Linked DNA regions of Homo sapiens: all the other regions are linked to region 3. The links come from fine-mapping of genetic effects on gene expression. A gene starts in region 3. Each other region holds a variant in brackets. All regions are shown on one strand. Distances are between the middles of the regions. Region 1 overlaps PARP14 (poly(ADP-ribose) polymerase family member 14). Region 2 overlaps SEMA5B (semaphorin 5B). Region 3 holds the start of SLC49A4 (solute carrier family 49 member 4). Region 4 holds the start of LOC124906363 (small nucleolar RNA U13). Region 5 holds the start of LINC02035 (long intergenic non-protein coding RNA 2035).

Region 1 (6,315 bases), 90 kb before region 3:
GCTTGAAAGAAATCTACCTTGTGGATGTATCTGAGAAGACTGTTGAGGCCTTTGCAGAAGCTGTGAAAACTGTATTTAAAGCCACCCTGCCAGATACAGCTGCCCCGCCAGGTTTACCACCAGCAGCAGCGGGGCCTGGGAAAACATCATGGGAAAAAGGAAGCCTGGTGTCCCCGGGAGGCCTGCAGATGCTGTTGGTGAAAGAGGGTGTGCAGAATGCTAAGGTGAGTGTCGCTTTTACAGAACACCACCAGGGCACTGTGACTTTACTTAGTCAGTGGCTCTCTCATGGAGGGCTGAAGAAAGATAAGGACCAAGGTGAGAATCAAGGGAGAGAATCCCATGCCTTCCACCCCTGCCTTGAAACAATTTTCCTTAGATAATTGGGCTTCTTACCAAATCATTTACTAATAGAGATCGGCCAATTATTTGTGAGAACTGAAAGGGTATAGAGGTCAGATTGCTAGATTTCCAGTAGATGTAAAACTCCATAATATCACACGTTTAGACAGTTCTCTATACCTTACACCTGCCGTGTTTTGGTAAATCTAAGACTAATTTCCTAATTTACTGACAGCAGATACAGAACAATCAGAGCATAGGGTATGCAGAGGACAGGAATCTTGTCAATGATGCTGAGCAAGAGTGAGCTTGGGGCCAGAGTCTAAGGGGCCATCAGCGCCCAACACCAGTGAGGAAGTGAAAAGTGGACCTGAGGAAGTTACAGGTGCCAGGCAATATGTGGGGACAATTCTTGTAGGCTGCAGGGGCATGGCAGGGGTTGGAGGGAGGCTAATATGTTTCTTTTTCTTTTTATTTTTTTGAGGCAGGGTCTCTCTCTGTCATCCAGGCTGGAGTGCAGTGGCACCATCTCGGCTCACTGCAACCTCCGCCCCCTGGGTTCAAGTGATTCTCCCACCTCAGCCTCCCGAGTAGCTGGGACTACAGGTGCATGCCACCACGCCTGGCTAATTTTTGTATTTTTTTTGGTAGAGATGGGGTTTCACCATGTTGGCCAGGCTGGTCTTGAACTCCTGACCTCGGGTGATCCGCCTGCTTCAGCCTCCCAAAGTGCTGGGATTAGAGGCGTGAGCCATCATGTCCAGCCAGCACTGTGCTGTTTTTGACATGCATGTTCTCATTCACTGCCATGCGGCAGATTCTAGGATTATTATTATTCTCACTTTACAGATGAGGGAGTGAGACTTAAAGGGGTTAGGTAATTTGCCCACATCCCCCAACTAGCAAATGGTAGAGCCAGGATTGGAATTTGTTCAGGCTCTTAACCATTGCACTCTTTCAAAATGTTAAAAATAATGTTGTGTCTCATTTTAAAAAATTAAATAAAAACTCTTTGGACCAAGCATCAGTTATGGGAATGAATTTCATTCCTTGTCTCTTTTGACACCAAATATCAAGACATTCTTTCCCAGCTAGGCATGGTGGCTCATACCTGTAGTCCTTACTACTCGGAATGCTGAGGTGGGAGGATCACTTGAACCCTAGGAGTTTGAGGCTGCAGTGAACTATGATCATGCCACTGCCCTCCAGCCTGGGTGGACAGAGCAAGACCCTCTCTCTTAAAAAAAAAAAAAAAAACAAAAAAAAAAAACAAAAAACAAAAAACAGTCATAGTTTGCTTTCCTTTCACTCCCATAGATGCTTAGCTTCCATGGCTGTAATAACTGCTCTGCATTACTCCTTAGTGACCCAGGCAGGGCAGCTTTGAAAATCACTTGGTTACATTCCCTCTCCTCTGTTCTCTTGACCTCTCTAATCTAGCCCGATTAATCTGCTCACATTCACTGATGAAAAAGCTTCCGGGGCTGCTCCCTTTCTGTCAGGGAGTCCAGATGTCTTGGCACTCGAGGTGGGCCCCCTAGTTTACCCCCAGTGTAACATTTCTAGCCTGGAGCATACCATTTTGCTGCAGAAGCTCTCTCAGATCAAATTAATCTGTTCACAGCTCACAACCCACCATGCCTATGTTCATGCTGCTCCCTGTCTTGCTCTGCCTGCTGAAATTCTTCCCATTTCTCAAACCCCACATTGCCCATGGTATCTTCACTAGTTACTGAAACAGCTTTCTCTGGACTCCTTCAGTGATGCCATACCATTCATAGATTACTTTTTGACTGCTCTCTTTTTTTCCTAAGTGTCACTTCAATAAGTATTTAGTCACACTTTGTCTTATGTTGATATTTCAATCACTGAAACCGTAGTCATCTTAGTTGTCTCCAATTGTGCCAAGCCCAGTGCCTCAAATATAGTAATCATTGATGAATGCTTTTTGTTAAAATTTGAAACAAATTTTTGGTTTTGTCTTTAAGACCGATGTTGTTGTCAACTCCGTTCCCTTGGATCTCGTGCTTAGTAGAGGGCCTCTTTCTAAGTCCCTCTTGGAAAAAGCTGGACCAGAGCTCCAGGAGGAATTGGACACAGTTGGACAAGGGGTGGCTGTCAGCATGGGCACAGTGCTCAAAACCAGCAGCTGGAATCTGGACTGTCGCTATGTGCTTCACGTGGTAGCTCCGGAGTGGAGAAATGGTAGCACATCTTCACTCAAGGTTGGGCCTGGTTTTGAATTCTCCATGAAGTTGGGTAGCCCTTTGGGTTCTCCTTTTAGTAGCATATTAATTGGACATAGATTGGGCCTTGTCTGTTTCTCTTCCATAATAATCACTCTTTTGGCAGATTCCATCATGTGGCCATTTCTTTCAGCTGTAGCTGACTTCTCCTGAGGACTAGTTAATACTATAAATGGATTATTGTGCTCAATAATTATTGGAGCTCAGGGAAGGGTTACTGAAGATAATATTATTGCTTGCTTAGTGAAGAAAGCCAGAGGAGGGTGTGAAGAATGGAAGAGAATGAAGGAAAAGAACAGTAGTTGCTTTGCTTCTTTCCTTCATTGTGAATGTGTTTAAGTCTCTCGCATTCTCTTTTCCTTTTCCTTGCCTTCTCCTGTATTTTTCTTTCCTCTTCTGATTGCCCTTAATCAGTGTTGACAGCAAAAAGGAGTATTCAAGTTCACAAAGTTGCTAAATTCTTGTCCTTTTTGTTCTAACTCCCATTTCTAGACAAGATGTATAAGGATGTGCTTTGTGCGTTTCAGATAATGGAAGACATAATCAGAGAATGTATGGAGATCACTGAGAGCTTGTCCTTAAAATCAATTGCATTTCCAGCAATAGGAACAGGAAACTTGGGATTTCCTAAAAACATATTCGCTGAATTAATCATTTCAGAGGTGTTCAAATTTAGTAGCAAGAATCAGCTGAAAACTTTACAAGAGGTTCACTTTCTGCTGCACCCGAGTGATCATGAAAATATTCAGGTACAGTGCCACTAATTTCTGATTATTTTGGCAACTGAGACCTAGTGTTTTTTCAAATGTCTTTTTGGTCTAACAGGATACTTTTTTCATTCATTTCCCCATTCAGGAAAGTAAGAAGGTAGTTTATACTTGTAGTTGTAGTTGTAGCATGACAAATTTTAAGAAAAGTTACAGATGTAGAAAAAATTTAACTTCCTATTCAGGAAAATTTTGAACATATCCAAAAGTAGACATAATAGTATAATGCAGTCCCTTGTACCTATCACTGAACTTCAACAGTTATCAACCTATGGCCAATATGTTTCATCTCTATCTTCATCTATTTCCCTTCCTTCTATATT[C/A]TTTTGAAGCAAATCTCAGACATATCATTTTATCCATAAACAATTCAACATTTATTTTAAACAATAACAATTCTTTTTAAAAAAGTAACATAACCACAATATTGTATCACACCTAAAATAAATGGACAATAATTCCTTTAACCAATTATCAAATCAATTCTCAAATTTCTGACTATCTCATAAACGTTTTGTTTTTACAGCTTTGTGTTTGAATCAGAATCCAAATAAGGCCCACATATTGCAATGGAGTTGACTATAGGATTTCCCTCCATATGGACATAGAAATTTTAATACATAGTATAAAAGCACAGTCTGGCCTTATCAATAGGAAGATGTCAGAAGGTGTGGTTAGAATGGATTAGCACATTCCCATGTAAATAGGAGAGTTGGGACCAGAAACACCAGAACTATCATCAATCATGAGTTCATGATTCAGCTCACATCAGCTGTGGGAGAGCCACTGGACTCAGCATTATGGCAGCACAACAGGCTTTTAAGCCATTATCCCTGCACTCCGAGTCTTTACTTAATCAAATAAAGTAGATGACATTCAGTGTTTGAAAAGCTCCCAAGGTACTGCAAAAATTGATCAAACAGATTAAGATCAGCAACCCAAGAGATACCTGTGGATCATTGGACCATCTGAATTTTTAGGTAATGCTTCATTTTTCTGTGATGCTAGATACTACCTATAAGTTCTTTGGAAGCAAGTAAATCTGACCTGAATTCTGATCAGGCAGCCAAACCACCTGAGTAAAATATGTGGTCCATTTACTTGTCCCGTATAATTAGTTACTCTTCTGTGCAACAGAAGCTTTTAAAATAATTTCCCTATGACTTGCATTGTGCAAGGTGATGTGGATCGTGGAACAGGACGAATAGGAATAGCACATACTTTCCCTCCTATAAATCACAATTACTTTGGAGCTAAGATTTATATACACAAAATGAACTAAATGAGAGGCATGAAGTGCTGTTTTTGAATGCATGGGTGATTGAATACAGCATGAGTCCTGTGACACAGACCTGAACCTTCAAATATCACTCTTTTTCATGCAACCTCAGCATTCATTTTCTTTCCTGAAGACTGAGTATTTTTCAAATACTCTGTAAAAAGAATTAGTCTATACAGATGCCTTTAGTACCATTTGAAATTCTCTGTATGTGTCTGTTACACTTTTTCTCTTTAGACTTTTAAAGACAGTTAAACTTTGGTTACATTTGCACAAAAAAATCAGCAAAGCTTATCGAGATGTTTATAGATGGAGACTGTCACAGAGGATGCAAAGCAGCAGTCCTGTGATTTGAACATGGCCTCTAGATGTGCTTTATTTAGATTATTAAAAAAAAATTTCAATCAGTTGCTAACATTTAAAAATCAAAAATTTTACATAAAACTCTAGATATTCACTACAACCTAAAACTTCAAAACTTCTGGCACATTAAACATGGCTTCCTGCTTGGGACAGGAAGTTTTCCATGGCTGAGTGGCAGGTGTTCTCTAGTTCTCCATAGTCAAATCAGACCACCTTTACACATGTGCCTTACCTACCTGGCTCCTAGAAGCCTGTGAGTCTGAGATCTTTGCTCTACCCTCTCTCTGGTTCCTTCTCCCATTATTGCATCTATCTTTAGCCAAGATGTTACTTGTTTTTTTTCCAACAAAATTATCTGTTGCTTGTTTACAAGGAGGAAGAAAATGATGATTATGGAGGGTCACCAACAGGCAAAAAAAAAAAAAATGAAATTCACAGGTTTATTAACACTAGAATACATACACCAGCTACTTGCTCCAAAAATCATGACTCCTCAGCCCCTCCTCTTTTGGTACAAATAGGAAATTAAAAACGGAAGTGTTTGGGACCTTGTGATGGTCATTCTCTTAACATTGTAGTTTTTACAATTGGCAAGTTATTTGCTTTGACTGACCATTATGGTAATTCATGTTCATTGTAGAAACTTTGAACAATGCAAAATGCATAAATTCTTTAGTTGGATTTTATTCCAGCCTGCTTTTTTTTACATATGTACTTTTAAAAGTGGGATTGGCTCGGAGCGGTGGCTCATGCCTGTAATCCCAGCACCTTGGGCAGCCAAGGCAGGCAGATCACCTGAGGTCAGGAGAACAGCCTGGCTAACATGGTGAAACCCCGTCTCTACTAAAAATACAAAAATTACCTCCCAAGTAGGCTGAAGCAGGAGAATCACTTGAACCTGGGAGGCGGAGTTTGCAATGAACCAAGATTGTGCCACTACACTCCAGCCTGGGTGACAGAATGAGACTCCATCTCAAATAAATAAATAAATAAATAAATAAATAAATAAATAAAGGATTGTGATTATAAATTATTTTATTTAATATCCTTCGCTTTTATTTTCTATTTCACTAAATCTTCTTTGAGGCTGGGCACAGTGGCTCACACCTTTAATCCCTGCACTTTGGGAGGCCAAGGCAGGAGGATCACTTGAGGCCAGAAGTTCAAGACCAGCTTGAGCAACATAGGGAGATCCTGTTTCTACAAAAAACAAACAAACAAAAAAACACAAAAAACAAAAAACGTAGCTGGGTGTGGTGCCATATACTTATAGTCCCAGCTACTTGGGAGGCTGAGGTGGGAGAATTGCTTAAGCCCAGGA
Region 2 (6,315 bases), 110 kb after region 3:
TTATTTTCTATCTCTTTGTCTTTTGTTCAACTTTCTGGGAAATTTCTTGTCTCTTTAAGCCCTTTAGCTAATTTTTTTGCTGTCATATTTTTTAATTTCTATGAACTTAAATATGTCCTTTAAAAATTACATCACGTATTTATTTCATATAGCATCTTCACTCATTTCTGAAGAATATGGTGTCTTTGAAGTGCTCTCTCTGTATTGTCTCTGTTTTCACTGAGTTCCACTTTATCTGTTTCTTTGTTTTGGTGTCTCTTTCATGTTGGACCTTTTCCTCTGATGTCTGTGATCCTTATGTGCCGATTCGTACCACCCTCCTTGTGAGGGAGCACATTCTGAGATTCCTCACCTCTGGGCCAGGGCTGGTTACCAAACAGCCTTTGCTTACTATGCCACCTCATCTGCAAGCAGTGTGGATGCACTAAAAACTAACTGCAAGCTCTGTGTACAGGGTACTGTTTGTAAACGAGTGTACTTTGCTCTAGGACTATATAGCATGATGACCAGCTAGCTTATTTCAGAATTTGTAGGGTTAGTTCATTTCTTCAAAAGATCATCTTCTAGTCTTCTGCCTGGGGAGGAGGAGGAAGAAAAAGGGGAGGAGGAAAAAGAGGAGGGGGAGGAAAAAGAGGAGGGGGAGGAAAAGCCTGGCTGTCAGAGTCTTGGAGTTAGCTTAGGAAAGGCAATGGCTGAATCCCACTGACAACCAGAGTCTGTCCAGACAACTCCTTACCACACACCCACCTCTGGGCCTGGTGTCCCCAAGTCCAAGGTTTCTCTGGTTCATTGTCTTAAGGGAACATACTTATTGCCCCCTGTGGAGACAGCGGAGTGGTGACGACTGTAACGGTGGAGAGTGAAGACAATTTGAAAGTCTAGCTGAAGCTTACACACAGATGTACAACCAATCCCTCTCTTTTCAGTCCCCACCTTAACCCCACCTTTCTCATTCCTGGTTTCTCTGGTATCCGGTTCTTTCTGAAATCACTTGGATGCTTAAGTTTGGCCCACATCCATTCTACTGGATGCCTGGTTCCTCCATCTGCTTTCTGTCTTCATGGATCATGACTTGGGGTTATACATACATCCTAGATTTACTGAAAATAGTGACAGAACTTTTGTTTTTTATTCTGTTTTGGGGGTGATTCTGAGAGAAAGAGGGATAAATGTCTTTATACCACCATTTAAAATCCCTAAGTCTCTGCCTTGGTTTTTAGTATAACTGTGATTATCTTTTTGGTTTTCTGTATCCTCTAAATTTTCTGCAATGAATACATATGACTTTAATAAGAAAATGCATACACACTCAAAAAGTCATTTATACACAAAGGGATGCAAAAAAGCCTGGAGCACCCACTCCTGCATCTTCCTTACTCCTGCTGAGCCAGCTGGGACAAGGAAGAATCCCTTGCCCTTCACGCCTCAGCTCCCTGACATCTGTCAGAGATCCCCAGACCCTCCTTGTCAGGGAGCACATCCTGGGGTTCCTCACCTCTGGGCCAGGGTTGTTTACTTAATAGCCCTTACCAACTTTGCCAGCTCATCTGCGAGCAGTGTGGATCCTTCATGCATTCTGAATGGTCATGCCTCCAAAGCCACATTTTTGCAAAGAGAATTCAGTGTGTGTGTGTGTGTGTGTGTGTGTGTGTGTGTTGAACTGGCACTCAAAGATTGACATTCTGCTGATGCCACTGCAGTCAACATCGGGTGGGCATTGCCCGGGAAGTCTCCATGACCACTTCCTACAGACCTACCTGGTCCCTCCACTTGAACACACCATGAGGGGCCCTTCTGAAGCAGGCACCCTGGGCCCTGGAACACTCTTAAACTTCAATGACCCTCTGGTCCAAGGGGGCTCTGAGACCCCAGGATCTAAAATGCCCTGCTAGCTGGGTGCAGTGGCTCACGCCTATAATCCCAACACTTTGGTAGGCTGAGGGGGACAGATTGCTTGAGTCCAGGAGTTCGAGACCAACCTGGGCAACATGGTGAAACCTCACCTCTCAAAAAAAAAAAAAAAATATCAAGCATGGTGGCACACGCCTGTAGTCCCAGCTACTCAGAAGGCTGAGGTAGGAGGATCGCTTCAGCCTGGGAGGCAGAGGTTACAGTAAGCTGAGATTGCACCACTGTGCTCCAATCGGGGAGACAGAGCAAGAATCTGTCTCAAAAATAAATATATAAAAATAAATAAATAAATAAATAAATAAATAAAATGCCCTGTAGGCCCCCATGAGCTCGAGACACATGGGGCTAAGAGGAACCAGTCAGGAATCCCAAGTACTCACATACTTCCTGAGCTCTCGGATGGGGCTCCACTGTGCTGATGACACTGCCATTCCAGTTGTCCCAGGTAAGCAGGAAAGATTTCAGGCATGTTCTTTCCTCCTCCTTGCTTCCAGGAACCTTTAAGCTTCAAGCACTCCTCCCTCCACTCCCCAAGAGCTTCCGCCTCCTCTACCACTAGGATGGCAGGTTTTACAGCCTGACCTACAATTAGATTCTGCTGGGAATCCTAGGAGAATTGATCCAGCCAATTAAGTCAGGAAATTGCTCTCTAAATTTAACATGTCCGTCAATCTCATCCAAAATGGCAGCATTGATTTGGTGGGCTGAGGCTTTGAGGTTATCTTTATTTAATCCAGCAAAAACTATATTAGGCTTCTCCCACCTCACAGATTTGCCTGTTTCTCAAATTTGATTTTATTAAACTCAGCAGTATAAATATCTCATAAAATAATTCTCATCAACACTCTCCCGCTGGACTCACACCCTGGAGCTGTTGCCTGAAGAGATGCTAAAGGAGCAGGCAGAACTCTCGCCTGTTTTGTCGCCTTTGGTGTACCTTATGTCCCCACTTGTGAATCTGCTTATCCCCAACATCTTTTCCAAAAAGGGTGTAGGACAATGTATGTGTACACTGTATGTGTATTTCCATTCTACAAATGGAAAGATATCATCTATTAAAGATAAG[G/T]CTACTTGGGGCATTTCCCCCGCCTTGAGAGACCATCTGCCACCCTGGTGCATTGCTCAGATTGCCTAGACTATGCAAGAGGAGCCCACGCACAGATGCACAGAGACATTTGGAGACTGGATATCATCTTTAATTAATAATGCCACAGCCCAATGTCTTTTTTGTTGCTGTAGCAAATTGTGATTGTGTGTGCGTGTGTGAGTGTGTGTGTGTGTGTGTTCCTGAACAGATGAAGGGCCAGCAGAGACTCCCAAGCAGGTCTCAGCCAACAACTCTGTTGAGCAGCAACTGGAAGATAGTCTCCATAGAGGCACAGAGGCCAGACTTCTGCCTCCTATGGCATTGATCCTCTCTCCTGGGCCACCTTTCGTGCATTGAGGGCAAGGCTGAGGCCTGTACCAGCCCAGATTAAAGGACTTCTAAGCACAGGTCAGCCTCCAGTTCCCAGTACTCACTGCCTCTGACCAGAGGGATGCCCTGGGTAGAGTATAGACTTCCAGGCAGAGGTGGATAACCTGCGCTGGCCTTGGTCCCATGTCATACTGGGGCAGCACCACAATGGCCCAGCCCTGGCAGAAAATCCAGAGCTACTGGAGCCACTTGATTGATTACTTTCAGAGATAATCAGGATGTAGCAAAGGCCTTTTTTGGGGCCAGCTGGAGAAGGCCAGACTCAGCTTGTGGGGGCCACAGGAAGTTGTCTCCAACCCAAACTTAAAAGCCTGCCCTCTTGCCATCTCCATTCTCCAATTCCTCAAATGCCCAGTAGGTCCACAGCCCAGGCATGGCAGCATAGTGTCAGCGTGACAGTGGGTTGGAAGATAACCATGAGAGACCTGGGCTGAACTGGACCTGCGGCCATATGTCAGCCTGAAACCAGCCCTTTCCCCCATGGTCAATGCCAGCCAGAGCTCTCTGAAGCCGGATGGGACCCCCCACAGGCAAGGCAGCAAGTTCTTGGCCTAGTGCAGAGGGAGAAAACCAAACTGGCTCCACTGTCCCATCTCCATCTGCTCTGTGCCTTATGAAGGCAAGAAGCCCAAGTCCCCAGGACGGCGGTATCAGCTGTTGGGGAAGCACCGTTGTCCAGGTGAGGCCTCGGGCCGGAAGCTGTGTTTGTTCAGGGGGCTTGGGTAGTAAGTAGTCGTGTACACATTGGTCTGCTGCAATGGGTAGAAGTTGGCTCTGTCATCAGGGATCAAGTTATTCTTGTTCAGGGTCTGTGGGTGGAAGAAGGAACCAGAGAAAGGGGTGAGGGAACACACAGGGGAAGGGAACAGGCCAGAGCAAGGAGTCCAGAAGCCAGCCGTGCAAGAACACTCAGACTGCGGATCCAGTGCTCTGTTCACACCACCACTGCCCAGTTCCACCCAGCTGAGGGCCAGAACCCCTGCACTCTTCACCCTGCCCTCCTACCCTGCCCTCTGCTTCTACAAGAAGGCTCCCGGCCGGGCGCGGTGGCTCACGCCTGTAATCCCAGCACTTTGGGAGGCCGAGGCGGGCGGATCACGAGGTCAGGAGATCGAGACCATCCCGGCTAAAAACGGTGAAACCCCGTCTCTACTAAAAATACAAAAAATTAGCCGGGCGTAGTGGCGGGCGCCTGTAGTCCCAGCTACTTGGGAGGCTGAGGCAGGAGAATGGCGTGAACCCGGGAGGCAGAGCTTGCAATGAGCCGAGATCCCACCACTGCACTCCAGCCTGGGCGACAGAGTGAGACTCCGTCTCAAAAAAAAAAAAAAAAAAGAAGGCTCCCACCTTGAATTCCATGGGTGTGTACTTTTCATTCTTCGGGGTGCCTCCGCCCTTGTAGTGCAAATGGTTGGGGGTGGCAGGATGGACCAGTGTGGACTCCTGGGACTGACGCTGGCAGTGCTGGCAAGACAGGTACACTGCTAGGGTCAGGAGCCCAGAGCCCAAGAAGCAGGAGATGCCCGTGGCCACCAAGTGGATGAGATTGAACCCTAGGGGAAGAGAGGCAGGTAGTAAGATGAGGGCCACTGTGAAGAGGACAGACTCCTGCCTGCCTCCCTGGGAGCAGAAACAGCAACAGGAGGCTCTGAGGCATCCTGGAAAGGGCTCTGAGGCCACAGCCAAAGGAAACAGGGAGGCTGGGGAGGCTGTCACTGGGGACCTCTTTCACAAGGTACCCTGTGGCTCAAGTCAGAGGTGGCAACCAGAGGGTCTAGAGTCAGATGACTCTTCCTTGGGTACAGACTGATGATGGCCTCCTAGCTGGGGGGGGCATGGAGGGAACTGCCCAGACCACCCTACACACCATCTCAAAGCAGTGGGGACCCCAACAAAGCTTGGCTGTCTGGAGCAGGATGTGGAAAGAGTCCAGACTTTGGAGTGGGGTGCCGGAGGGCTGGGAGGACCGCAGCATGAGGTAGGTCCGGTTTCTTTTACCTGCACAGTCGGTGGCCTCCTCCATGCTGGAGGCTGGCAGGATGACTGCAGGAAGACCAGTGGACAGGGTGTCAGGGGCGGAGACGAGAGGAGGGGGGCCCTGCAGGGTAGGCGTAAGCCTGGGAGGACCTCTAGGTCAACGCTCAGACGTAGGACTAGGTAGGCGTGGGGGCCTTCATTCCCCTCCCTCTCTCCTCAGACCCCACCTCTGAGAAGGGCTAGCCCATCCACAGGATGAGGAGGGCCCAAACCCCAAATGTGTGCATGGAGGCAAATATGGGAGTTTTCTTTCGGCATCTCCTTCCCCCCACTTCCATGTTTCATCCTGTGCCCCCTGCTCCCCACCAGGACACAAGCTTCAGAAGGAGAAGGAAGTTGGGAGTGCAGGCTGGGAAGGGTTGCTGCGCAGGTGCTGGCAGGGGTACCTACCGGGAATCTCGCTGTAGGGGCAGGGGCGGCTCTGGCTGCTGTTTCCAGCACAGGCGCTGGACCCTGGGAGGAGCTCCTCACAGTGCCGGCTTCGGCTCTGGGCTCCGTCGTCAGTGCACTTACTCCACTCAGACCAGGGCGACCAGCCTTCTGGGGATTGTGGGTAGGATGAGGTTAACTGCCCAGGGACCCCCTGGTGGGGATCAGAGGGCTCCATGTCGCTTCCCAGCCCTGGCGGGATGTGCCTCATACCTGGGCAGGCCTGTGTGGCACATAGTGCCTCCTCCGTGTGCAGCCCGAGACAGATGTCCTCACCTGGGGAGGGTGCGGGGCTGGTGCAGGAACGGGTGCGTTGATAGTGACCCCCACCACAGGAAGCTGAGCATGGAGACCATGAGGTCCAGCAGGACCAAGCACCCCGAACTGCAAGGGGACGGGGTGTGTGAGGGGCTGTAGGGGCAGCCAGGGCCCAAGACGGTCTTCCATCCCATACCAGCCCA
Region 3 (6,315 bases):
ATGATCTAATGGAAAAAACAAATAATAAATAATTACAGATTGTAGTAAGTAAAATGACAGAAGCAGGATGCTGTATTCCAGAACATCTAGGGTTGGGGGGTGCAAGAGAAATCACAGTGACTGTTTTAAATAGTTTGATCTGGTAAGGTCTCAGGTGGTGACATACTTTAAAAGCTAAAGATTAAGCCAGCTATGTGAAAAGCCAAAGGGGAGGTGAGTGACAAGAGATCCTGCTAAAGACATCAGCAGAGCCCAGACCAAGGATTATTACAGGCCACGGTTAAGAATCTGGGTTTTATTCTAACTTCTAAGGGCAATGTAATTCGCTGAAGAATTTTACATAAGGAAGAGTCACTTTTTGCTGCAGAGTGGAGAAGGGATTAGAGGGGCACAGAATAGAAAACAGAGACACAAGTCAGTCAGGAAGATACAGTAGTAGTTGAGGTGAGAAAATGTGGATGATTTGAAGTACGGTCTGATAGTGAAAGGAAAAAAGTAGACAGATTAGATGCAGAATTGACCTGACTTGCAAAGTCATTACCTGAAATTAAGAAAGAGGCAGAGAGAGGTTATAGAGTTTGGGAATTTGTCATTGGAGAACGTTAGCAGGCTCACTAGAGAAACAGAGGATCAGAGGGATCTCAAGCCCATACTGACTGAATATTCAAGAGTTTGGCCATTTTCACTTTATACGGTCATCAGTTTGTGCAGGACTTTTTCCAGCAAAGTTCAGGCCCACGGGTGCAGGTACAAAGAGGGCAAAAGGTTGACTTCATCCAGAGTAAGAGTTTTGTCAGAAAAAAGTGCAGGAAGGGACAAGAGAATTTTTCAAAGGAACGACATACATTCTGGATAAGGGGGTGCAGTGGATAGAAAATGGAAAGATCAATGCAATGGAGGTATAGATGAAGGTCAAGAATTGTCTCCCTGGTAGAAAGTGGTCAGATAGTAGGAGGCTATAATTTGTTTCTTCTGCTTGGAATGGGCATCTCCCCCTTCAGCAAACTGTTTGACCCCTAAATACATCCATCCTTTTCTGCTCCCTGACTTCCTGAACCCCAGCACCACTCCCTGAGTTTGTCACCATCTCATCCAATCAGAAAGGCCCACCTCAGCGGATCACAAGGTCAAGAGAGCGAGACCATCCTGGCCAACATGGTGAAACCCCGTCTCTACTAAAAATACAAAAATTAGCTGGGCGTGGTGGCACGCTTGTAGTCCCAGCTGCTTGGGACGCTGAGGCAGAAGAATTGCTTGAACCTGGGAGGTGGAGGTTGCAGTGAGCCAAAATCGCGCCACTGCACTCCAGCCTGGTGACAGAGCGAGACTCCGTCTCAAAAAAAGAAAAAAAAAAAAAGAGAGAAAAGAAAAAGAAAGGCCGACCTCAAACTATTCGCTCCTTGAAGCATTTATGTTCTCCCCACTGAGATCCCTCCTCCTAACAACCCTCACAGAGTGTACTACTGGTAGAATAGTTCAGGTGACCACATAGTAAGTCATTCTTTTTCCTTTCTAGGCTCCTTTGGAAAAGGTATTGTTATAAATATTCAAAAGTCTCTGGATCCTGCGACAGTATTCAGAACACAGCCCTGCACGGTGCAATCATTCAATAAATAATAACAGGGATCTCAGGCTCATGGGCCTCCAAACCTCATCCCCACTTGCTAAACCAGGGTTCACTGAAATAGAATAAAAGCGCATAATCCCTGTTCACAAAAGTCTCAGATAACTTCCATTAATCTCAAAGGTTGCCTTCAATTTCACAAATTTAATTTTAATCCCCTCTAAACGTTCAAAACACCTCTATTTAGCTAATGATGGGCAAATATAAAACAAAACAAAACAAAAATAACACCCCATGCGTGAAACAGCACTCGTAGGCTACCCTACGACGATCAAAAATCTGGATGCCACAATTCGAGAAATGCCACGCTCACTAGAAAATATAGATTTTTCTTCATAGTCTAATGCAAGGCCAGAGAGACCTGGGTTGGGGCTAAGGCAAACGGCCCCACGAGGGGTGCCACGAGAGTCAACTGGCATTGGGTTTGTACTCAGGGTCGGACCTCAGCCTGGCACCTACCTTCCTCCCCTCCAGCCCCAGCCGCAACGATCACAGGAGTGGTCGCCTCGGAGCCTGCTGCCATGGCTACCGCAAGGCGGGTTCTGCCGGAACCCAAGGCGGAGCGGAGCTGGGGTGGGGTCAGAGTAGGGGCCAAACTCCGAGACCCGAAGCTGCACCACAGGAAGGAGCCCCGGCGACTCCCGCCCGGCTCCTACGGAAACGCCGGCTCTCACGTGGAGGTCACGTGACGGATGCTGGGCGGGACCACGCAGCTTTGTTTTGATACCCCGGGTGTGGAAATACAAACACGTGGTCTGAGTTGTGGCGCTTTTTACCTAACCCGGACCTTAGCGTTCTTTATTGTAGTCTTAGCTTCGTTTCTGTTTCTCCTTTTCTAGTCAGATCCTTCCTTTCCACCTCGGCTTTTCTCCACCCTAAAGGATTGGAGTTTTAGGGGAAGGTTTGCCGCTTAGTGGGGCTCCGGCGGTGGGATGGGTCTCTGCCGTGAGCTTTCGCGAGCCGCTCTTGGCAGCCTGGAATGCGAGGCTAGCTCACGCTTCTCTTACACCTCTCTTGCCCTTCTGGTGGTAACCTGACTCCTTCTGATTTTAGTGGCTGCCGGGAAATACGAACCTCGGGCAAAGAATCCTGTGATTGCGTTCCCTGTGACTCATTTCCCGATCCAGACAAGCCAAATTGCTTGACTTTAGGTTTTCAAGGACACTAATCCACAGCTGTCAGGCTTCTGAATTTGTATACCAAAATAAACAAACAGCTGTGTGAAGAGATCAACAACCACCTTTCTTCTCGTTTACCCTGTGGTCAAATCATAATCACTGGAGATGGATCTTTGGGGCAAAAATCTTCCAACTTTACTGGACATACCTTTATTGCTCGCCTATTGGCAGGCGAAATGGGTAAAGTTTACATATATATGAATGAAATTGGCTAGTTTGGAATCTCCTCTTTGGATATGTAAGACAAAAAAGTAACAAAAATAGGTAGTACTTATTGCACGTAAGAAATGATTTTTATGAGATAATCCCCTGGGACCAACTACGCTTAAACTTTATCCTTCGCCTATAATTTCTGAAGTTACTAACTCAACAAAAATGAGAATAAGCCCAAAATAGAAGCAAGCATCAGGTTAACTGACGTCACTTAACAGGTCACTGAGTTGTTTATTAGGCACAAGATTTAACTTGGACACTTCCTCCAAACACCCCAGGGTTCCTTGCCCAACCTCCTCGAATACAGCCTCTCTGGGAGTTTCCCTCTCCCCGACTCAGCCGCGCTGGTCCCTGCCTTTTCAGCGCTACCTGCCCTCCGTCTGGGACCTGGCTCCTTTCCTCTCGCCGGTGTTTCCTCGCCACCCGCGGAGGGGAGGGCGGACCCCAGCCTCCTTGCCGCCTGCCCCGCCTCCCCGCCTCCCCGCCGGCCCGGCTCGGGCCGCGCAGGCGCACCAGGCGCGGTCCGGAGGCCGAGGGCGACCACAGCAGCCTCCGCCTCCTGCTGCTCAGGACTATTCTGCGCTGGGCTAGTCGGCGGTGACCCGGACTGCGCCCGGCAGTGGCTTCGCGGGCGACGCGTCGCCATGGGCTCTCGCTGGAGCAGCGAAGAGGAGAGGCAGCCGCTGCTGGGGCCCGGGCTCGGGCCTGGGCTGGGGGCCTCCTGGAGAAGCCGGGAGGCGGCGGCGGCGGCGCTGCCCGCGGCGGTCCCGGGTCCCGGGCGGGTATACGGGCGCCGCTGGCTGGTGCTGCTGCTCTTCTCGCTGCTGGCGTTCGTTCAGGGCCTGGTCTGGAACACCTGGGGTCCCATCCAGAACTCGGCGCGCCAGGCCTACGGCTTCTCCAGCTGGGACATCGCGCTGCTCGTGCTGTGGGGGCCCATCGGCTTCCTGCCCTGCTTCGCGTTCATGTGGCTCCTGGACAAGAGAGGTGAGGGGTCGCGGAGCGCCAGCCCGCGCTGTCTCTCCTCCGGGAGCAGGCGCCTGCCCGCGCTCCAGGCCTGCCAGCCGCCTCCCTTGGCCCCGGCATAGGGGTTGTGTGAGGTGATAGAGTGTTGCTAGCATTCCATTTCTGACTTAGGAACCCTCCGTCCCCAAAGCGACAAATATGGAAAGGCAACCTTGCAAATATTTATGTTTTTTATCAAGGCCCTTTATGCAACACCAGGGATTTAAGCGATCTCTAAACGTTCAAGTTTTTACACATTGTGAACATCAGAGCATCCCCGTGCACGTGCGGTGTATGTGTTTTACACCTGACAAAAATGACTGATGCTTTGACTTCAAAGGGATATGGGGATGTTGAGGATGAAAGGTCGGAAAATAGATTGACGGTGCCCATATGTAAGGAAATAATGAGTTCGTTTTGTGTAATAGATGACTCCAGCCCAGGAAGAGCTATTGGGAAACTCAGATCTGACACTTTGGTTTCTGGAAGGTGGTGCTCGGCAGCTTTAAAATGTGTGTATGTGACTAGATGGCTTTCTCAGTTGAGATTTGTGACTTTCAATTAAAGCTTGCAGATGAGTGAAGATGCTTGCTTAGAATGGTACCCTGGACATCTCACTTTACCACTTGCCAGTGTGATTCTCTGAGAAGAAAAAGCCATAGGGCTGAGAATCAAGGCATACTTACCACATAAGTATGGATAAATGATTAGTAGTGACAGTCTACCCTCAAGAGGCTGTTGTGCAAGATTTTATATTTATTAATTGAATAATGCCTGGGAGCTACTTTGTACAGTTTCTGTTCAACCTTTTATAAGTTTTGTTGCAATGAGTTCTTTAGTCAGATTTGGAAGGTTGTCTTAGTCCACTGGAGCTGCTATAACAAAATACCATAAACTGGGTAGTTCATAAACACAGAAATTTATTTCTCACAGTTCTGGAGGCTGGGAAGTCCAAGATGAAGGCTCAGGCAGAATCGGTGTCGGGTGAGGGCCTGCTTCCTACACAGTGGTCTCTTCACTATAACATAAGATGGAAGAAGGGGTTAGGGAATCCCTCTGAGGTCTGTTTTATACGGGCAGTAATCCTATTCACATGGGTTCCACCCTCATAACCTAATCACCTTCCAAAGGCTGCACCTTCTTATTCCATCATTTTGAGGGTTAAGATTTCAAAATGTGAATTTGAGGCCTGGCGCAGTGGCTCAAGTAATCCCAGCACGTTGGGAGGCTGGGGTGGGAGGATTGCTTGAGCTCAGGAGGTCGAAGCTGGAGTGAGCTGTGATGGCACCACTGCACTCTGCCCTGGTCAACAGGGCAAGACTCGTCTCAGAAAAATTAATACATAAACAAAATATGAATTTGAGGGGAACACATTCAGACCTCAGCAAAAGTCAAGTGTAGGTAGGTATAGAATTGCAATTGTCTGGCATGTAGTTAGCACTCAAAATTAGTTGGTTATTAAGAGAATAGAATAGCAGGGTGATGTTAGTAGTTATACTTCCTTCTCTCCTCCTTCACTGGAATTCCTTCATTGGAATCCATGTGAAAAAGACTAAGGAATAGTTGATTGTGAATTCCTTAATGATCAACAATATAATGTAGCTGCTAAAAAAGAAAGGACAGTTTAGGCATAGAAACATAGTGTCCAAAACAAGAAGCAAAATAGTTTGATAGGCTCTACATTAGTGTTTAGTTCTGAGCTTGATTCTGAGAAGGCCATTTGACAAACTGCAGAACTTTAAAGGTTCTGCGACAAGAATGATAAAGGGTATAAAAATCATGATGTGTAAAATGAAGGGAACTTGTGTGTATCACACTTCAAAAAGAAACTTGAGGCAAGATATAGACTATGTGAAGATCAAGTCAAAGAGGAATTCGACTTATGTGTTGTTCTAGGAGGAAGAACTAGACTGAGTCAAGTTACAAAGAAATGTAACTCAAAGCAATACAAGGAAGAACCTTCTAACAAAGATACCCAGCCCTGAATGGGTGTGTCTTGACTGCTGTAGAACTTCCAGCTAGAGCAAATACTTTTGCAGAGGATGTGTGCTAGATGCCGAAGAAGGGCTTCTCCTACCAAAGGGAGATTTTCTTTGGGTTATTGTTGTTTGCTTTTAAACTAAATATTGATTTTCTCTGGGTTTCTGCTGGGCTCAGTGGCTCATGTTTGTAATCTCAGCACTTTGGGAGGCTGAGGCGGGTGGGTCACTTGAGCCCAGGAGTTAGAGACCAGCCTGGGCAACATGGTGAAACTCCAAATCTACAAAAAATACAAAAATTAGCCAGACATGTTGG
Region 4 (6,315 bases), 44 kb before region 3:
CCGCCCGGCCAGCCGCCCCGTCCGGGAGGTGAGGGGCGCCTCTGCCCAGCCGCCCCTACTGGGAAGTGAGGAGCCCCTGTGCCCGGCCGCCACCCCGTCTGGGAGGTGTACCCAACAGCTCATTGAGAACGGGCCATGATGACAATGGCGGTTTTGTGGAATAGAAAGGGGGGAACGGTGGGGAAAAGATTGAGAAATCGGATGGTTGCCGTGTCTGTGTAGAAAGAAGTAGACATGGGAAACTTTTCATTTTGTTCTGTACTAAGAAAAATTCTTCGGCCTTGGGATCCTGTTGATCTGTGACTTTACCCCCAACCCTGTGCTCTCTGAAACATGTGCTGTGTCCACTCAGGGTTAAATGGATTAAGGGTGGTGCAAGATGTGCTTTGTTAAACAGACGCTTGAAGGCAGCGTGCTCGTTGAGAGTCATCACCACTCCCTAATCTCAAGTACCCAGGGACACAAACACTGCGGAAGGCCGCAGGGTCCTCTGCCTAGGAAAACCAGAGACCTTTGTTCACTTGTTTATCTGCTGACCTTCCCTCCACTATTGTCCTATGACCCTGCCAAATCCCCCTCTGTGAGAAACACCCAAGAATGATCAATTAAAAAAAAAAAAAGAAAAAAAAATTAGATCTCAAACTTATACTATATCCTAGTGAAAAACTTCCAAATGGATAAGAGATCGAAATGCAAAAAACATGAAACAATCTAAATTCTAACACAAAACATTGGTGAATTCCTTTATGACCTGGAAAGGGTCATATGACCTTGGTTTCTAATTATGACTCAAAAACAATAAAGTTCAACAACAGATTTTGTTGGTGAGGCTGTGGAGGAAACAAGCACTTTCACATACTACTAATGGAAATGCAAAATGGCACAATCACAATGAAGCTGAATTTGGCAAAACCTAACAAAATTAAAGATACATTTACCCTATGACATGGCAAATCCATTGTTAAGATCTCCCCCAAAGACACACTTCAACAAATATAAAACAACATATGCACAAGGTTATTCAGTGGCATTATTTGTAATTACAAAAGACTGGAAACAACCCAAACATCTATCCTTAAAGGAACTAATGAACAGTAGAGCACCCATACAGTGAAGTACTAGACAGTGGTTGAAGAAAAATATGAATATTTCTCTGTACTATTATGTAGTGAAATTCAAGATATTATTGTTGAAAAAAGCAAGGTATGGAACACTATAGTTTATTACTTTCTATGGAATAAAGGATAGAAAATTTAAAATATATTTGAATAAGTATATAAATAAGTAAAGACATATTTATATGCTTATGCACTTTGTACATATAAGACTGTTTATATACTTATTTACATATATAAATATATCTATTCATTTACTTACTTTTATATATAGATATAGATATATATGTTTACAAGAAACACTGGAAATGATAAACCAGAAATGAATAAAAATGGATCTCTATAAAGGTTGGGAAAAATGGAGTGGATGGAACAGGGATGAAAGGCAGACTTCCCTGAGTATAACTTTTAACATAGTTTTGACAAGTTAAATGTTCTACATATTTAAAATATTAAATTAGATCAAAATTTTAAAAAGGTAAATCCTAAAATTGAAAACAAACTGAAACAAATGAACTTAACTAAATATCCAATTAGTAAAATAACCATAAATGAAAAGAATTCCTTCACAATGACTCCTGAATAAAGGACTTTGTATCTATCCCTCTTAGTGATAGATACAGTCTAATAATAAAAAGAATTGCAAAGAAATCTTAATTTTTACTTGCAAGCTTTATGGTTAGTAGTAATATTACTATTTGAATTTTGGAAACATAAATTTGACATCTTTTTCTTTTTTTGAGATGGAGTCTTGTTCTGTCACCAGGCTAGAGTGCAATGGCGCGATCTCAGCTCACTGCAACCTCCACCTCCTGGGTTCAAGTGACTCCCCTGCCTCAGCCTCCTGAGTAGCTGGAACTACAGGCATGCGCCACCATGCCCGGCTAATTTTTTGTATTTTTTTAGTAGAGAAGGGGTTTCACCATGTTGGCCAGGATGGTCTCAATCTCCTGACCATGTGATCTGCCCGCCTCGGCCTCCCAAAGTGCCGGGATTATAGGTGTGAGCCACTGCACCCGGCCAAATTTGATATCTTAAAAAATATATTGCTGGATACAGCAAACAAGTAAATATGTTACTGGTTTTCTTTCTTTTTTTTTTTTTTTGAGACAGAGACTCGCTCTGTTGCCAGGCCAGAGTGCAGTGACTTGATCTCGGCTCACTGCAACTTCTGTCTCCCTGGTTCAAGCGATTCTCCTGCCTCAGCCTCCCGAATAGCCGGGATTACAGGTGCGTGCCACTATGCCCAGCTAATTTTTGCATTTTTAGTAGAGATAGGGTTTCACCATGTTGGCCAGGATGGTCTCGATCTTTTGACCTCATGATCCACCCACCTCGGCCTCCCAAAGTGCTGGGATTACAGGCGTAAGCCACCGTGCCCGGCCTTATGTTACTGTTTTTAAGGACCCAGATTTTCAGTGTTAAGAGAAGAGATAAAAATACAGAAACAAATAAAAAATTCTATCATGTTAAACTTGAATTAGATACTTTTATAGTTCATAAGTCTGATGATTGGGTGTCATGCTCATGTGTGAGACATGCCTCCCTTAAGCCTTGTTATGACGTCAGCATATTACCTGTCTAGATATATTTTTTAAACACATGAATTAGAAATATAAATACATCAATATCTATCTATCTATCTATCTATCTATCTATCTATCTAATCTATCTATCTATCTCACATTCTAGCTACATCACTGAAAGAGCCTAGAAACACTGACACCCAGGAGCAATGAACAGATTTAGAGCTGAGATCTCAGTTTCTAAATGCCATTTCCTACAAAAAGAACTGTGGCTACCTGGAGAAATGATTGACTTCCAAGTGTGGGGCACTAAAGGAGAAAGGGTATCCTGGGATATCTTCCTGTGCCAGAAAGCCAGGATACACTCAAAGTCTAATTAACGGGGACATATCAAAAGGGCACAGGCCAGCTTGAAGTTTCACTAAAATGACAGATAAGACCCAAATTTAAAATTATCTTGTCAAGCTGGAATGCTCAACCAAACCAATATGATGAAAATTAACAGGGATGACTGTGAAATACTGGATTTAGAATTAAAATCAGCTTTATAGGTACAGGATAGGATTCAACCTGCCTGACAGCAGATCATGTGAAAAAAAATCACAGATATTTTAAAGTTGAATATGAAACTAAAGTGAGATGAGATTACTT[A/T]AAAAACTAACCCAATATTACAAGCAGCACTGGAGATATTTAGGATCGAGATCATGTGGGGTAGAAATCTTATACTCTACCAAATAAGGCCTACTGATATTCAGTTTTAGGCACTATATATTAAGAGAACTATTCTTGACATAATAGCTCTCCCTCCTCCTCATAGCAATTTCTACTTTTTAAACACTTCCCATATGCCACGCACTATATTAGATGCTTTTACAATGTGTTGTCCAATTACTCTACTGAGGTGGGTTCAATTATAATCCTCATTTTACAAGAAAATGGAGGCTTGAAGAGATTAAGTAATTATCTATGTTAGACAGCTAACAAAGGTAACCTGTATCTTAAAGTTGCCTGATTCCAAAGTCTATGGCCAGAATGGTAAAAAGTCTGGAAAAAGGAAAAAATCACCCATAAAAACACCCCATTAAAGAAAGTAAGAGGTTTTGAGCATGGAAGAAGAAAAGATTATGGAAAAACTTGGAGGTATTTTCAAATATTTTAAAAAGATGACAGCTCTACTCTTTAACAACAAGCGAACTTCCTTGGGAGGTGAAGCACCTGTCAGGGCTATTGTAGATATGACTTTGGCATTGGGAGTGGAAGTTCTCCATGGATTCTACCTTGACATCTGCTGCAACTCCAGTTCAGCATGCTATAGGCGAAATTTCTGTGACGCTACTGATCTCCTGCCATACCTCTCACTTAAGCCTCAAGGGCTACAACTCTTCACTAAGCCCACACAACATAGCTTTCTGTAACAATATTCCTTCTGTTCCACTGATTCCAAAGCCATTCCTATTAGCAAAGGATAGGAAAAACTAGACTAGGGAGAGGATACGGCTGTCAAACAGAGCAGAAAGATGCAATCCAGGCTTCAGGTCAAGGAGAGCAGAGATGCAGTCAGGGCCTCTGGTTAAAGAGAGGCAGCTGCAATTAAGGCCCCAGTTGAAGAGACAGACTTGAGCATAACAAGCAGCTATTCTAATTGTCAAATAGAGCAGGCAACCAGGATTAAGCTTAACACATCAGAGGGAAAGGCTTCTGGCAGAAATGAAATGATAAAAACCTAGCACTGAAAGAAAGACTCCGCTTTGAGAATATGTAGAAGCCAAGACAGAATTCTGCAATTAGTAATGACCCTGAACCAAGAAGCAGGTATTTCCAGCCCAGATGGTGTGAAAGAGGAGCGGCAACAAGGGACACATATCGGCAAATCTGGCCAGGCCCAATACAATTTTCCTAACAACACTGGTCAAGGGAAAGGACCCTGCATGCCAGCATCAGGCGCATTCTGTGTCCTTAAAAGAAAGAGAGTGGCACACCACTAAAATTCCAATTTCCAACCTAAACATCCATTAACAGAAGACAGAATGCATACGTTATAGTGCACTGCAACAAAAAAATACTGAAGCATTGGTTAAAAAAAATTAATTACCCAGTTGTACAGCCAGACCTTATATATCTTTTAAAAGCATGATTTGCACTTACTTAAAAAAAAAAAAAAAACAACGAAAAAGTACCAGTTCAATCCATGAGTTTATACTGACAGTGACAGGATCAATGGATTCTACGTAATGCCACCAGTGTCTGGGAACAAAGAGAACCTGAAAACCAAACAAAGAATGGTTAGCACAAGAACAGGACGTTTCATTTTTATGTCAGAATCAGACCCTAATTGAGGCTGCTAGGAAAAAAAGGAATACAAATGAATTCACAATAATATTGCTGGAGAAAAGTAAAGTAAGAAAAAAAACCCCGCAAACCTTTTTTCCTTTTATTCCTTTTTTATTGACAAGTTCACATGTTCTACAAAGGATACTGCCAGCATCTCTATTCTCTTTAATCCTGGGCCTTCTTTGTCTGCACCTAAATCTTAGTACATGATTCTGAGATTCTAATTTTTCCTCCTTTCCGTCACAAAATAGTTGCGTGCATTCTGAGAAAGGGCATAGGTAAAACACATAGGACGTGGCTTCTGTTTTCTCACAGCTCAAAATCTAGCCAATGAGAAGATAAAGTATAGAAAGGTGGCATTATAGAAGTGGTAAATCAGGGGACAATGGTGTTTCAGAATTTCAGAGGTGGGTGAAACAGGCATGAACTAGGGAGGTCAGGGGCAACATGGATGGAAGAAGTGTGATTTGAACCCGGGCTAGGAGAGAATTTAGACACAGAAAGAATGAGGACATGCCAGGAAGGATAAGAGGTACAGGTGAGGGAGGTAGGACTACAGAAGATAGCAAGTAGGTCAGTCTTACTATCACAGAGGGAATAATGGGAGATAAGGTAGGGGAATTAGTTTAGGGACAGCGGACTTCAGAATCTAGATTTTATCTGGTAGGCACTAGGAGTTGTTGAGAAATTCTAAGTAGGGGGATGGTTAAAATAGTGGTATCGAGAGAGTCTGAGAAGGACAGGAGATACTTGCAAAGGTCCACTTATTAAACGTTAAGATATAAATAGGAAGGTATAATAAACAAAAGCAATGGGCAGAGTCAAGAAGGATGGCATCTATCCAGACTCAGTATGAGATTTCCTATTAAGAGCAGAGTAGATGGAAATGATGTGAAGCTTTTGGGCTTCACATTAGGAAACTACTGGTATTTGCTGTGAACAAGGCAGGACTGGGAAATAGAAAGAGAGATCCTTTCAGGAAAACTGGAAACTATAAAAGGCCACTTGATAGTCATTAGTAGGTTATGCATGTCCTATCAGAGTAAAGTTTCAGTAAAGTGGTGACAGAAAGAGCTGGGTTTGAGTGGATTAAAGAATGGATAGGATGTAAGGAAAACTGATACAATAGGCAAAACCAATCACTCAAATTTGGCTATTAAACACAGAAGAGAAAATGAATTGGCAACCACTTCACACTCTCTGGAATGGCTGTAAAAATAATGATAAAAAAGCAAAACAAGTGTTGGGAAAGATAAAAAGAAATTGGAACCCTCATACAATGCTGGTGGGAATGCAAAATAGTACAGCTGCTATGGAAAATAGTTTGACAACTCCTCAAAAAG
Region 5 (6,315 bases), 93 kb after region 3:
AATCAAAGAAATGATCTAATTCAGCCACCTCATTTTACAAATCAGTAGAGAACCTTTTAGGTTAAATGACACAGCCAGGTTTTAGCAGATCACTTGGCTCCTAGACCAGCATTCAATCCCTAAATGATCAATGTGTTAGCCATAAGTAATTCTTTTAAGTAATTTTTTTCATTTCTTTTAGAGTTTTGAAAATTACATGAGAAATACATGAGTGTATAACTATTATAAAATAGTACAGGAATAGAAAGTAAAGTCTACCTCCATACAAACATGCTGTTTAATCCATTCTCTCCAGAGGGTATCATCATTCATTCTTTCAGAAGAAACTTGTGTATGCATTTACATATCTATGTATAAAAACTCGGGGGGCATTTAAAATCGAGTCACCTAGGGATCTCTTTCTTGGACCATATTGGTATAAACTTTATGGGCAGAAGCAGAAGTTTCTGAGATCCTTATTTCTCTCCCAGATGAATCTGTCAGATGTAGCATATTGTGGTTAATGTAGGTGTTTCACAGACCTGCTTATGTACCATCAAGCTTTATCATATTCTAAAGTTCAAAAGTGAGTTCCAATATGCATTATTGAGTTGAGTTCCAATATGCACTATTGTGTTTTCTTACTGGAAATACAATTTCTGTTCTTAACACCATCAACTAAGCTCCCTGTACTGTGAGAAAAGAAAGTGAGTAACCGACCTATGAAATCCATATAGATTTCCTCCACAGGACTTTCTTGGCTTCCCTGTCTCTGCAGAGGCACACAATATTATAGAAAACAGAAGCCAAAAGAATAATCTTGTGCAATTTTTTTTTTTTTTTTTAGACAGGGTCTCACTTTGTCATTCAGGCTTGAGTGCCCTGGTGTGATCTCAGCCCACTGCAGCCTCAATCTTCCAGGCTCAAGCAAGCCTCCAGCCTCAGCCCCCCAAGTAGCTGGGACTACAGGTGTATACCACCATGCCAGCTAATTTTTTATATTTTTCGTAGAGATGGGGTTTCACCATGTTGCCCAGCCTGGCTTGTGCAATTTCGTTTTTTGAAAAAATAGCTAATGGAGATTCTGATAATTCTTATTGTTTCCTGGTCAACTTCTGTGTCTTTCCTAATTTTCAAGCTGTCAGTAGAAATGATGAACTGTAGCAGGCCAGAAGCTCAGCTTCATTTGGTCACTTTTTCCTTTCCTGTCTTCTTGCCCATCCAGCTTTCCCCTTTCTGATGGTGTCTTCTTATTTCTGACAATGCTTGGGAGCGAGCTGTGTGACACCCAGATTTTACGAGTTGCCAGCGGTGGAGAGGAGAGAGCCGGGCATGCAGATTCTTCATGGACCCTACTAGAGAGGACAGAGAAAAAGAGCACTGGTGTAGGAGCCCACGGGTCTGGCTCTTAACCCTGGCCTGGTGACTTCAGCTATTTGACCTTGAGCAAGTCACTTCATTTCTCCTTTAGCAACATCTCTAAAATGAGGGAGTGAGCAAAAATGTTCCCTTAGATTTCTTCTAATTCAGAAATACCAGTTGATTCTTATTTAAATATGAACATGACCAAAGCATGTGCAGTCTGTAAAGCTGGAGAGGTGCCCAGCACCTTGGTGTTTCCATTTGTGCGGTAGCCCCCCTCATGTGAGCCCTGTACGTGAACATATGAAATCTTATGCTGCATCCACATTCAATAAGAAGAAATTGCTTTTTCAGTGTCTGTGGGAGGAGATAAGCTGCAGGTGCTGTTTATTTTCCCAAAGGACTTTATATATGAAACACAGGGTTTATTAAATGTATCAAATGCAATAAGAGAAAAATCTGTCATCTGATGTTGAGATAGCATACTGGGAGCCAGGTCGGGGTACTGCATTTGCTCACCAGAATCAGATCAAACGAGATACGAGTCCTTTGGTTTGATTGGATTCATCATGAGGCAGCATGGGTTTGCACTTGTAGAAATCAAAACTGTTAGGTCAGGTAGTAAAGCCAATCCTTGAACTTACATCTTTAGTTAAGGCATCAAAGAATTGTAAGTTGCTTTGCAATGATGCCATCTCCACATGGTCAGATTCTTCCAGTAAACTGTGCAGATATTTTACAGAATAAGAGCTAAGTTTCAGCATGTCAAGGAATGATCTGTACTCAAGTGTTAGTAAACAAGGGTTTTTTTGTTTGTTTGTTTGTTTTGAGACAGTCTCTGTCATCCAGGCTGGAGTGCAGTGGCATGATCATAGCTCACTGTATCCTCAGACTACTGGGCTCAAGTGATCTTCCTGCCTCAGCCTCCTGCGTAGCTAAGACTACAAGCGCATGCCACCACCCCTGGCTAATTTTTTATTTTTTATGGAGAAGGGGTCTCACTATGTTCCCCCAAGCTGGTCTTGAACTCCTGGACTTAAGCAATCCTCCCACCTCAGCTTCCCAAAGAGTTGGGATTAAAGGCGTGAGCCCCCATGTCCGGCCAACAAGACTTCCTCGTGACTATAATGTGAGCATAATATTAATAGCTCTGAGAGAGAGAAGTGAACCAGAAGACCAACCTCAGTGTCAGGAAGTCTGGGCGTCTGTCTTCTGCATGGCTGAAGACATGGGGCTTTGGGCAAGTCATCTGTTCTCTTTGAACTTTGGCTTCCTCACTTCTGAAATAGGAGGGTCAGAGAAGATGTTTCTTTTTGCTGAAAAGTTTTACAGTTCTCTGATCTATACCCCTTGGTCACACACAACCAAAAAGTAGAAAACATGAGTGCAATACTTTTCCACCAGTACTCCCAGTTTATACATTATCTTCTCAAACCAATAAGGAACTTCTACAAGGCCCTGTTAGTGATGTGTTACAGGTGCCAGCATTAGGGAAACTTTCAGACTGTTATATCTATTCGTTCCTTCATCCATGTATACTATTCATTCTGTATGCAGAGTAATTTATATATGTACAATTACATGGCAGTGAAAGATAATCAGAAAAATGAA[G/GA]TTTTTTTTTTTTTTTTGAGATAGTTTTGAGACAGAGTCTTGCTCTGTTTCCCAGGCTGGAGTGCAGTGGTGTGATCTTGGCTCACTGCAACCTCCGCCTCCCGGGTTCAAGGGATTCTCGTGCCTCATCCTCCCGAGTAGCTGGGACTACAGACATGCGCCACCATACCCAGCTAATTTTTGTATTTTTAGTAGAGATGGGGTTTTGCCATGTTGGCCAGGCCATTCTCGAACTCCTGGCCTCAAGCGATCCTCCTGCCGGCTTCCCAAAGTACCGGGATTCCAGGCATGAGCCACCATGCCCAGTCAGAAGGTTTTTTTTTAAAAAACACACTCCTGAACTAACAATTACAAAGAGCTAGTGACAATTTCCCAAATAATTATGCATAACAGGAGCCCATATATTGTTCTCAAATCATAAACCATAACTGATTTTGAGGAAAAGACATTCTGTCCCACTGATATTCTTTTCATGAGTAAGATCTGGATCTGTCTGGAGGCACAGAATTAATTTTTGCATGAGGAATCCCAACCCTACCATCATTCCATGGCTGAGGAATTGGTTATTACTCCTATGGGAAATTGGGAATGTTGTTGGTACCCCAGCCTTCTCTTAAGACAAAATTTAACAAATGCATACATGCTAAGATGCTTATACTCATAAGGCTTTGTGGGTCTCCTTTCTAAGGGGAATTTGAATACTAACAAGAACAAAGGCTAAATACCAAAAGGGGGCTTTCTAATGGTAGAATTTGGGATATCAGGTAGCCACATAGAGCAGGGCTACTTTGGGGGCTGGAGACTGCAGAAACCCTTCAGTTTATACGTGTGAGTAAACCTAATCACACTTGATGTATTGCTAGTGAAGTCCCAGCCCCCTGAGCCTTTGCAGAAACCCAAAGAATGCTAAAAAGGGCAGGTTTTAGTTCCTGCCAATTATTTCATTTACTACAAATGCCCCGAGTTCCGAATTTACTTCCCTCCCCACCAGAAATATGTCATTTTGGAGGCTTGTGAAAATTAAGCATTAAGAAAATCCCGCCTCCATCCTAATACACTGCATCCACAAGTCCCAAACAAAATCACTTCCTTGGCCTACACACATAACTACCTGTTTCTGTTTAGGTCTGTGACTCAGAAAGTGCCTGGAAGAAGTCATGAGAGGGAGTCGATCCCATCTTACCTGCCATAGGAAGAATAGGGCCTGCTCAGTAGAGTTCAGTGTGTGTGTTGAAGGTGGTGGTTCTTAGTCCTTCCCTGAATTCACTAATTCGCATTGCACTCACTCTTCCTGATCAATGAGTTATTGCTGAGAAATCATTGTAGTAAGTAATACAGGTATCCCCAGTAAAGCCATCCCTCTCCTCCATACCTCCGCTGTCCCTTGGGTTTTGGCTCCAGGATCCTTGCCCCATGTCCCAAAGAATCCCTACCTTGGGCCTCCCTCCTCCTCTTTTGTCAATTGCACTTGACCTTTTCAGGAAAAAGAAATCAATTGATACCTTAGTCCTAATGTTTGACCCTTTTCTATCTCAGAATAGAGAAGTCCCTGTATTTGTTCTTTTTTTACTCAAGTTTAATATAGACCACCTAGGCACAGAAGCTCCGTGCTATATTCTGTTGCCTGTAATTGTCCTTCCATCTAATTGGGAAAAGGTTACTCTATTGAACCATCTGCTGATTCCCTTACCTTTTCACTCTTTTGTCAGTATTCCTTTACCAGTAAATTCTTGGTTATCTAGGTCCTGAAGTTTCATTCATGTTTTTTTTAAAAGCTTTAATTTTTCTTAGGAAAACTGTTTCTCTCATCTTAAAGCAGACTATGATCTTTTCTACTTTGTTATACAATCTGAACATAATGAACACTCTAAAGTCAGGCATGGATTTTATCATAAAAGCAGATCGTATTAAGATTTTTTTAAAAAAGAACCAGGATTGAGGAATCTGTAGCTAATAATTTAATAATTCACCAGCATGTTTTGGGCTCCCACTTCATGCTGGCCACTGGGCTAGGCACTGAGGGTGCAGAAGCAAACAAATCAGCCTCCTGGCCCTCAGATTTGCATTCCAGTGAGTCCATTCATAAAACCTAACTCAAAGCCAGCAACACCCCCAAAAGGGCTGTTGGAAGCTTTGTAGCTCATCTGTACAGCTGTCTTGATTCCTGTACGGGATCTTACTTTCTTGGGAAAATATGTTCTAAATCCTGTTTCCTTGGGCCATTAAAAATCCATGCTGTCCCTAATCAATATATAGTTATGTGTGACCTTCTTAGAATTAAAAAAATGCCGCTGGACAGCCTTTGAAGGGAAAGGCAGAGAAATCTGTTTTGATGGCTTGAAAATAAGTGAAAAGGTTTTTAGGGAAAGCTAACAAGCTTTCAAAGATTTCAGATCTGCCAGCATTCATTCATTAAGGCATGGGATTAGGCCAAAAGAGCCTCCTACCAAGGGAGAGACAGGAACCATGTAAGGAGATCTGTGAGACCGCAGTGGAAGAGTATTGAAATAGAAGCCAGACCTGTAGACGTATTTGTTAATATGTGTGCCAAGCCAAAGTACAGGAGGAGGCTTGGAGGCATGGAGTTGTGGTGGAAGCAGGTTCTGAAAAGCAGAACTCTGAAGCTGGCTCATTCTCACGAAGTCATCTGGCCCAGCCTCCCGCCTCCAAGCACATCCTGCCTGCAGAGGGTCTGGCTAGCTGCCTTTTCAGCTCTCGAGGGATAGAGATTCTACAACCTCCCTCTGTCATCAGTTCCAGAGCCACTCCCCTTTGCACTAGAAGTTCTTGCTTTCAAAGAATGAGGGTGTGAGGGAGGGAGGGGTCAAGAAACAGAGTGACAGGGGAAACAGGCAGAACAAGTCAGGGCAAAGGACCCCAGCATGAAGAGTTGTGGAGGTGGAGGTGGGGAAGCAGCCTCACATCTCACACTTCCTTCCTTCTCTTAAATGTGAGCAGCTGACTCCAAGCCTTGTGGAAACTCTAGAAGGTAGAACCAGCCATCTGGGGAAGCTGGCCTTACAGATGCCCCGTCTGGCATAGTGGAGGTTCCTGTGCTCTGAGAACGCAGTGTGAATCTAGACATCCACTGCAGCCTGGGAAGAGCTGTGTTTTCTTCAAAAGTCTTTAACTTTCACAGTCACCCCTCTAAAGAAATGTTCTCTGATTGAAGGCATGCTTCTATTCCTACTTTATTGTGTTTCATGCATTCTGCCAGAGTAATTACTTTTCATACCAATTCTTGGATGCAGAGAAATCTCTGGTAGTCTAAGGGGATTTCGATCCAAGTAAAGCTACTATCTCCTATTCCATCCAGACTTTTCCGTCTGCCTCCATTCTCTCAGTCACATACCTAGAAGCAAG

Evidence for each region. PIP is the estimated chance that this variant, and not a neighbour inherited with it, causes the effect.
Region 1: its variant is fine-mapped to the expression of SLC49A4 in whole blood (INTERVAL, PIP above 0.99).
Region 2: its variant is fine-mapped to the expression of SLC49A4 in whole blood (TOPMed, PIP above 0.99).
Region 4: its variant is fine-mapped to the expression of SLC49A4 in whole blood (INTERVAL, PIP above 0.99).
Region 5: its variant is fine-mapped to the expression of SLC49A4 in whole blood (INTERVAL, PIP above 0.99).

Annotation. Positions count from the first base shown.
Region 1 is chr3:122,701,412-122,707,726 of GRCh38, forward strand. It overlaps PARP14 (poly(ADP-ribose) polymerase family member 14), which reads left to right. Exons shown (of 17, transcript NM_017554.3): 6 at 1-224; 7 at 2,331-2,567; 8 at 3,116-3,337. Among named protein-coding and RNA genes, the nearest start is that of PARP14, 24 kb to the left of the region's middle. RefSeq lists an enhancer at 1-179. The variant C/A (reference allele first, on the strand shown) is at 3,679.
Region 2 is chr3:122,906,105-122,912,419 of GRCh38, forward strand. It overlaps SEMA5B (semaphorin 5B), which reads right to left. Exons shown (of 23, transcript NM_001031702.4): 19 at 6,068-6,238; 20 at 5,816-5,965; 21 at 5,387-5,431; 22 at 4,736-4,941; 23 at 2,978-4,197. The coding sequence ends at 4,039. Among named protein-coding and RNA genes, the nearest start is that of LINC02035, 23 kb to the left of the region's middle. The variant G/T (reference allele first, on the strand shown) is at 2,978.
Region 3 is chr3:122,791,534-122,797,848 of GRCh38, forward strand. It overlaps SLC49A4 (solute carrier family 49 member 4), which reads left to right and starts at 3,536. Exons shown (of 9, transcript NM_032839.3): 1 at 3,536-4,002. The coding sequence starts at 3,660. It overlaps HSPBAP1 (HSPB1 associated protein 1), which reads right to left and starts at 2,298. Exons shown (of 8, transcript NM_024610.6): 1 at 2,084-2,298. The coding sequence starts at 2,147. RefSeq lists a silencer at 3,373-3,862.
Region 4 is chr3:122,747,773-122,754,087 of GRCh38, forward strand. It overlaps HSPBAP1 (HSPB1 associated protein 1), which reads right to left. Exons shown (of 8, transcript NM_024610.6): 6 at 4,819-4,902. It overlaps LOC124906363 (small nucleolar RNA U13), which reads left to right and starts at 2,600; the gene lies at 2,600-2,703. The variant A/T (reference allele first, on the strand shown) is at 3,293.
Region 5 is chr3:122,884,626-122,890,940 of GRCh38, forward strand. It overlaps LINC02035 (long intergenic non-protein coding RNA 2035), which reads left to right and starts at 1,888. Exons shown (of 1, transcript NR_024618.1): 1 at 1,888-6,315. RefSeq lists an enhancer at 5,795-5,884. The variant G/GA (reference allele first, on the strand shown) is at 2,953.